Linked DNA regions of Homo sapiens. The protein of the gene in region 1 purifies or fractionates together with the protein of each later gene. This does not show direct contact. Each region holds a gene or a part of one and is shown in the gene's direction. Other genes may lie near its edges. The genes, in order: C11orf71 and NACC2.

Region 1 (3,988 bases):
TTACTGGCCCAGCCTACAAACAAAAAGGTGTTTAGAATTTAAATAAAGCAACTAAGGGAAAATACTCAAATTTTACAAATAAGATATGACAAAGTTTAAAAACAACAGAAACGTAATCAGAAACTTCTTTTGAAAATGATGCACGGATTTCCATTTTGGCTACAGTAAACATCCTAGTTATGACTGAACATTAGATTTATTTGGGGAAGGGGGCCCATAAGGAACTGGAAACACAATCACTTTTGCAATTCACAGCACTGTATGGCTTAACATAGTGACCAATCGCCATTATTTTGCCACTCCATGAAAATGAACATTTATCAAGAACAAGAGAATGATTTTCTTTAACTAAAAACGGACTTTTGTATTGATTAATCAAACAATACCAGTTATTAGGGGATAGGGATGGGGGGAATAGGATACTCAGAATTTTTCACACTTTTTAATACAGCAACACTAAAATGCTGTTTTTCTACGGAGTACTTAACCATTTTATTTTACATATTTTAATAATGCTGCAATTTGATAAGCAAACTTTAGGGGAAAACAGACACAAATAAATTAAAATATTAAGTTCCCAGTCAGATAAACCAAAGACAAATTATCCTAAGGGGAAGATGACAACAGGAAGGATAAGAAAAAGCACTGCTCAACGAAGACCCTACACACACACTGTGTTCCCAAGGACCCCTGGATCTCTACCACGGGAAACCTGATCGAGGATCCCTCCACCACCTTTAGTCGTCACTTTCGGCCTAAACGAACCAAGATCTTCCAGGAAAGCGACACCCAGCGAGCGTTTCGCAACCCAGACCCGCCTTTCACCCCCAAACAGCCACCCGTCGGGTCCCCTGACGGCTACGAAAAGAAAACGGGGTGGCCGCTGGCCAGGCCCTAGGCGAGACGGAAAACGAAAGGCAAAGGGCCGAACCCAGCCGCTTACCTGGTGGAAAAGCTCGAAAAGGAGCTCCTCGGTCACTTTCGTTTCAAGGTTGCCCACAAAGAGAGTGCGATCCGCTTCCGCCGCCGCCGCCCCCATCTCAGCGTCGCCCCCTCCCTAACCTGGCCAAAAGGTCGTGGCCGACGCACCCACTGCGCATTCACGGAAGCCCCACGTCCTCACGCTCCCTGGCGTCACAAACGAAAACGCCCGTTGCGCTTGCTCTCAGCGGGCGACGACGTGCGCGGACGGTCTGCGCATGCTCGCCAGGATACCCCTCGTTAAAGGCAAGGCGGCTTCTGGCTCTTCCGCAGGCTCAGTTATGGGTTCCTGTGTGCTTAGTCATCGGGTCCGACACAGGCTGGACTGATCTGGGGAGCCGCGAAGGGCCTGCCTTCACAAAGGGACGTAACGCAAGTACTGCGGGCAGTGTTTGAATATGGCCCTGAACAATGTGTCCCTGTCCTCCGGTGATCAGAGGAGCAGGGTGGCCTACCGCTCTTCCCATGGCGACCTCAGACCGCGGGCGTCAGCGTTGGCGATGGTCTCCGGAGACGGCTTCCTCGTTTCCAGGCCTGAAGCGATTCATCTAGGACCTCGGCAGGCGGTGCGACCAAGCGTTCGGGCCGAGAGCCGTCGAGTGGATGGTGGCGGCCGGAGCCCAAGGGAACCAGATGGCCGGGGCCGGAGCCGCCAAGCCAGATTCTCACCTTACCCAATCCCTGCCGTTGAACCCGATCTCCTAAGAAGTGTGCTGCAACAGCGTTTGATTGCATTAGGAGGTGTTATCGCAGCTCGAATTTCAGTTTAAACGAACACCTTTCCTCTGGCCCTCACTTAGCTTGTGAACAGGCCTTTTTAAAATCCTTTCTTGGTGTAGCAGCAATCGTGTTGTTTTATTTTTAGATGGATGTATTTTCATTTAATACGTGGGAGTTATATGAATATGTCCTAGCACTAAGGGAAGTGTAACAGTTGATTGATTTAGGTGGTTTTATGCAGCCAGAACGATTGGATCAGGAAAGGTGTGGAAGGGATATTCTTAGGTCGTCACAAAGCTGAGCTGATGGGAGCACCCTCCCCAGAGGTCAACAATCCATTCGTTAACTCAGACACTTAACCTTTACCTTTACTTCTGTTGGCGAAAAAGAAGTGCTCCTTTTTATTACACTGATTTATCCTTCCATCTTTTCCTTGGCATTTACCATCTTCCATCTCCCCCTTCACTTTTTTCAGATATGTCTACAAACAGACTCCAATCTCAGTCGCACTAAAAATAAGAACAAAACCTAAACCTTACAGTTCTTTCAAATTATTAAATCAATTTATTATTCCTTTCTTTGGCAAAGGTTCCAAATTTTTACTTTATATTTGTAATTTTACTATTTGCATTCAGTCCCAGCGCATTAATCTGAATCTGCTGTCCTAAAATACACTGGTGAAAACATTACTTGTACAATCTCCTATCAGAAAACTGTTCATCTACTCACTGTAGTGCCCTCCTTGAAATGTGTGTTTGTTCATTCAACTAACAATATTTGGGGATCCCTGTAGTAAACACTGTATGAATTTTACACAGTCTGGCCATCAAGAAAGATCACGGAGTATATTCTAGATGGGGAGGCTACTAAGTGAATAGGAATCACCACGCTGGGCTGTTTATTAGGTACAGTAATAAACATAAGTACTGGTTGCAGTGACTTTTTTTTTTTTTTTTTCATCATAATACTGCACTATCCTGGTTCTTCTCTTACCTGGCTGATCACTCCTTATTTGCTGTTATTTTTGTTCTCTTAACCATACATTTCCCAATGTTTAAAGGGTGGTATTTTGAGAAAGTTAATGGGTTTTGTAAGTGCCAGCTCTTTATATAAGCAGGTAGACTAGCTTTTTCCCAGCAGACGCTTGTCTGTTTAGACTTCCTTAAAATAATTATCTTCAAATAAAGCAAAATCTCCATACACCACATAGTATTGAATTGTTATAACTACGTGTTAAGAAGAATGTTGAGTAAACAAGATAGCTTCCATAAGAGGGTGATTAATATAGTGAGAATTCTAGAAACCAGATCATAGGAAGAATGATTGAAAGAATAGTAATAGCTACCTTTTATTGAGTGCTATGTGCAAGTCAGTGTGCTAGGACTTCTATTGTTTATAGAGATATTTATTGAGAACTTACTCTGTACCTGCTACTGCCTGCGGTAAGCACTTAGAATAAAGTGGTGAACATGATAAAAGTATGTGTTCCTAAGGAACTTTATATGTTATTTGATTCTCACAGCAGCCCATAAGAGGGGTACTCTACTTTCATTTTGTTACTGAAAAACAGCGTGAAGGAGATAAACTTTCCAAGGTCATATAGCTAGTAAATGATAGAGCCCTGCAGCCTTTCAAATGAGGTTCCTCATCTGAATGCAAAAAAAATGACTTGAGTAACTATTTTCTCAATTTTCCCAAGGATAATATATAACTAATTTTTTTTCAGATAACTAAAAAGAAGTTAGTTTGTAATATACAATGGATGGCTTAATCTGGGCATTACAAAAACCCGTGGTTGAGAAAGGAATTCCAAACTATAAACAGAGTGTTAGACTGGGGAAGAAGAATAAAATTAAAGCTGAAGATAAAGAAGCCTTTCTTAAAACTTAGAGATGCCTAGTAGTGGAAAATACCACCTCAAAAGGTAATGAATTAGCTGCCAGAAAGTTCAGAGAGGCTGAATCTTGTGAAGGATTTTGTCAAAGGAATCCTCATAGTGCGAAATATGACTAGATGACTTCTTCATTTTTTCCCATTTAGTATATAATCCTATGCTTTAAAAAATAAACTCGGTTAAAGTTGAAATGGGGAGTTGGGGGATGAGGAGAGAAAAATTAGGTATGACATATTGGGTGACCATATCAGCAAATGAGGGCACTTGGGAGTGGAAGAGGGTGCCATCAATTATGCCAAGGTGACAGGCAGACCAGTTGGCTCATGTAATTATCACCTACAAAATGATTCAGCACTAAATATGCATTGGAAGCATATTTTTTAGCTTATGAGG
Region 2 (3,809 bases), on another chromosome or scaffold:
CACCCCCAGGAACCATCTGAGGGTAAATCATAACCCCAGTTCACAGCTCAGCGTCTGAGGCTGAGGTGTCCTTACAGGAAGTGGCTGGTGCCCACGGGACCTAGGATTTCAGCCTTGCCAACAGGCCAGGACCCTCTTGCTGCTGGAAGGGACAGGCTGAGAGCCTACATTGTCCCTTGCTGTCTGTGTCAGCCCTGGCTGCTGCCCTACCCAGCCCAGGTACTTGGGACCCCCAGGAACCGGTGCGCCGTGCTGGCCTCTGCCTGTCCCCTCTTTTGGTACAAAAGCCCCTGTATGACTCAGACATCCCTACCCCCCCGTCCTTGGGGCGAAGTTGCCCACAACAGAAGCCACGGGCTCTCTGGGAGGCTCCTGGTGGTGGGCGCAGTGGGTCTGTGAAGGGAGCTGTCTAGGGGCCTCTGCCCTCTGTGCTGTGTTGCACAGGCCCCTCTCTTGTACCCCCCTGCCCGGGTTGTGTCCAGCATTCAGCCCTTGCCGAGCTTATGAGGGCACTTGGCAGACTTCCTGGATGAGGCAGAAACTAAGTGGGGACCTGAGGGTGGAGGGTGTGGCGGGGAGGGTGACAGCTGGGCCCTGTGTCTCCTGGCCCGGTGGAGCCCAGCTCATCAGCATGGCCGAGTGGGGACGTTTCTGTAAACGCCCCCATCCCAGTCTCCTTGAGTTGTCACCAGCCCCTTGTAGGAGGCAGAAAACACTAGGCACGAAGCCACCTCCACGGGCCTTTGCCGGCAGCTTCCCCGCACCTGGATCTCTTCCCGTCCCCATTCAGTGGCTTTTTGTCTGGTCTGGAGAAGCTGAGCCCATGGTGTGTGACTAGGGAGGAGCCAGATGGCCCTCTCTCTGGTCTCCGGATGCCTCAGAGGGGCGCCGGGAGTGAGGGGCAGGGCTGTGTCGCCTTGCCTCCCACCAGGCCTGTTCGGGCCTCCTCCGCATCCTGCTGCCAGGGTTACCCCGAGGGTGGTGGAGGCAGCTGGCCAAGCAGGAGGGGGCTCACCTCAAGGCCTCGAGCCTGGACCCTGCCCCTTCTTTTGGGTGGAATGTGCTCTTCCTGGGGGTCACAGCCAGTGGCAGGGAAACTGAGGCTGGGCAGTCCAGAGGTCAGCCTCAGGGCCCCACGCAGAGAGGCTGGTATGAGCCCAGGATGAAGTACACATTCTCTGGAGGGGTCCCGGGGCCACCACAAGTCCTGCACAGCAGCAGCCCCTTCCCAGGAAAAGGCTCAATAACAGCCAGACGCTGCAGACCCCCTTGGGCAGGAGGTGCAGCCTGTGTGGCCGCAGCCAGGAGTGTGCGGGAGGAGCGAGGCGGCCGCTTTGCCCTCTGCTGGGACCTCTCAGGCGGGGCTGCCCCTTCCGGCTCCTGGTTGCCCGGCCACAAAGTCGCTCTTTTCTTAAAGTGCCAGGAGGGCGCTGGGAGTGGGATGGGGAGGGGTGCTGGGGCTGGACTCCCGGGCCTGCCGCCTGGGCAGAGGACACAGCTCTAAGGCCCCCAGGACCTGGGGTGCCGCCTCACCCACCCACTGCCTGCCGTTTCTGTGCCTCTCTTCACCCCCTGCTGTACCTCCCCTCCCCTTCCCTGGCTCCCCTAGCTGTCCTGACCCCCTCACCCCCTCCCCCTGGCGCCTCTGCCCATTCCCCACCCTCGCTGGAGGAGTTCAGCTCTGCCAGCTCTGCAGACTGTTTGGAATAGTTTAAATGCTTTGACACTGGGGCTGTCCTGGAAGGCCGGGAGGCAGTTTACTGGGTAATTCATATGCAAAACTGCACCATAAATTTCCAGGCTGTCTCAGTTGCCGTGGCACCGGGAAGCATTTCTCCACTACTGTACAGTATTTCTGCCATCTTTGTTTGCATTGCAGTGAGTCATCAAAAGTCTGTCTCGTACCAGCACCCGGGGCCGCGCATTCCTCTGGCACCAACACTCCACTGTTTTTAAAGCCGGGGCTGGGAGCTGGCATTTACTTCGGCTCCCAAATCAAAGGCGGCTATTCATTCCCGAGCCGCCGGAACGTTCGTCTGCATCCGGCCCCTTCATTGAGATGCGGTGCGCTGCCCGGGAGGGCCGGCCTGGGTGCAGCTGAGCTGCGGCCGCGAGCCCAGCGCCCAGGCGCTCTGCCCTCCTCCTCCTCCTCCTCCTCCACCATCTCCTCCTCCTCCTCCTCCTCCTCCTCCTCCTCCTTGCCGGCTCCCTGCGCCCTCCCCGCCCCAGGGCTCCCGCTCCGTTTGCTGCATTCGCGGAGCAGCTGGGCAGGCGGGCTGCGTGCGGGGAGCCTGTCCTGCCAGGCGGAGCGGGCAGTGCCGGCCGGCGGCCGCAGCGGCTGAAGGTAGGTCTTCCCGACCGGCCGGCAACTTCTCCGCAGCGGGGGCACTGCGGGCCGCCCCCGGCGCGCGTCCACCTGCCCAGCTCCCGGCGCGGTGGCTCCGCCCTCCTCCCGCCACCCGGCGCCTCTGCGGCCGCCCGCACTTTCCTCCCGTGGGACACAGCGGCCTTTGTGCGGCCCTGCGGAGTTGGGCTGGCGCCTTCTGGGCCGCCCCCGCCCCCTCCGGAGTCCGCACCAGATAAACAGCGGCGCCCTCCCCAGCTCCCAGCCCCGGGGTCCGGGCAGCCCGGCGAGGGCTGGGACCCCTGTAGTCACCTGGGTTGGGGCCGGGCCGTCGGGATTGGCCCGCGTGGGGAGCGAGGCGAGCGGGGTGGGGGGCGTCCGCGAGTGGGGCTGCGACAGGCTTCCCAACTCCTGCCCTGGCGGCGGCTTGGGAACCTGGGTCTGGTCCGAGCCAGGAGAGCACGGGAGAACGGAGCGGGCGCGCCCAGGGTGGTCTCTCTGCGCGAGGGAGGAGTGGACGCGGCTTCAGCGGACTTCCCGGCACCCCCAGCCATTCCCTACCTGCCCGGGAGGCTCAGGGGGACTAGGGGACGCTGGCCCGCCTTCCCCGCAGGGGCCCTCTGCGAGGCTGCTCGGAGGGAAGAGAGGGAAAGCAAACCGCAAACTGCACAGCTCCAGAGACCCCCCTCCCTCCCTCCTTCCCCGCTGCTCCAGCGCGGCCCCTCCCGGGAGCTCCTGTGCGGGCTGGAACTTTTTTGAGGGGAGGAGAGTGGCTGCAGGTTTGCCCAGAGGCTCCCCCGGCGGCCCCCACCTCCTGTCCCGGGGCAGGTTCAGGCCTGCGCTCCTCCTCGCCTGCTGAGACCGAGTCGCTAAGAGCAGCCCCCTGGGAGTGGCGTGGGCGCACTCCTGCCGGGCAGCACCCCGGGGATCTGCAGCAGTGCTGGCCGGGCCCTCTTGCCCGTCTGCCAGGGGGTCTGGGAGACCCCGTGTCCCTTCTCTGGAGTGTCCCAGCCAGGAGGGGCGGGGGAGGGCGCGTGCGGAAGGCTCGCTCTTTGTAAGCCCCCGGCGGGGGAGGAGGGGGTGGGAACGGCCCCTTGAGCGGGGAGCCCGTGACCTGGAGGAACTGACCACGTGCCTCCTGCCCCCCACAGATGAGCCCCGCTAGGGCCGCCCCGCGCTGAGAGCCCAGCCCCGCCGCTGCCCGCCCGCCATGTCTCAGATGCTGCACATCGAGATCCCCAACTTCGGGAACACAGTGCTGGGCTGCCTGAACGAGCAGCGCCTGCTGGGCCTCTACTGCGATGTGTCCATCGTGGTCAAGGGCCAGGCCTTCAAGGCCCACCGGGCGGTGCTGGCCGCCAGCAGCCTCTACTTCCGCGACCTGTTCAGCGGCAACAGCAAGAGCGCCTTCGAGCTGCCCGGCTCCGTGCCGCCCGCCTGCTTCCAGCAGATCCTGTCCTTCTGC

What was found.
Region 2: the proteins of C11orf71 (region 1) and NACC2 purify together in Homo sapiens (affinity purification with mass spectrometry; one large-scale study listed by BioGRID and IntAct). This does not show direct contact.

The regions. Positions count from the first base shown.
Region 1 is NC_000011.10:114,397,723-114,401,710, reverse strand, and holds C11orf71 (uncharacterized protein C11orf71), read left to right. Parts: upstream 1-1,199; 5' UTR 1,200-1,379; coding exon 1,380-1,751; 3' UTR 1,752-3,179; downstream 3,180-3,988. Other genes in the region: RBM7 (RNA-binding protein 7), read right to left, coding at 1-13, 944-1,039.
Region 2 is NC_000009.12:136,050,267-136,054,075, reverse strand, and holds part of NACC2 (nucleus accumbens-associated protein 2), read left to right. Parts: intron 1-3,495; 5' UTR 3,496-3,554; coding exon 3,555-3,809.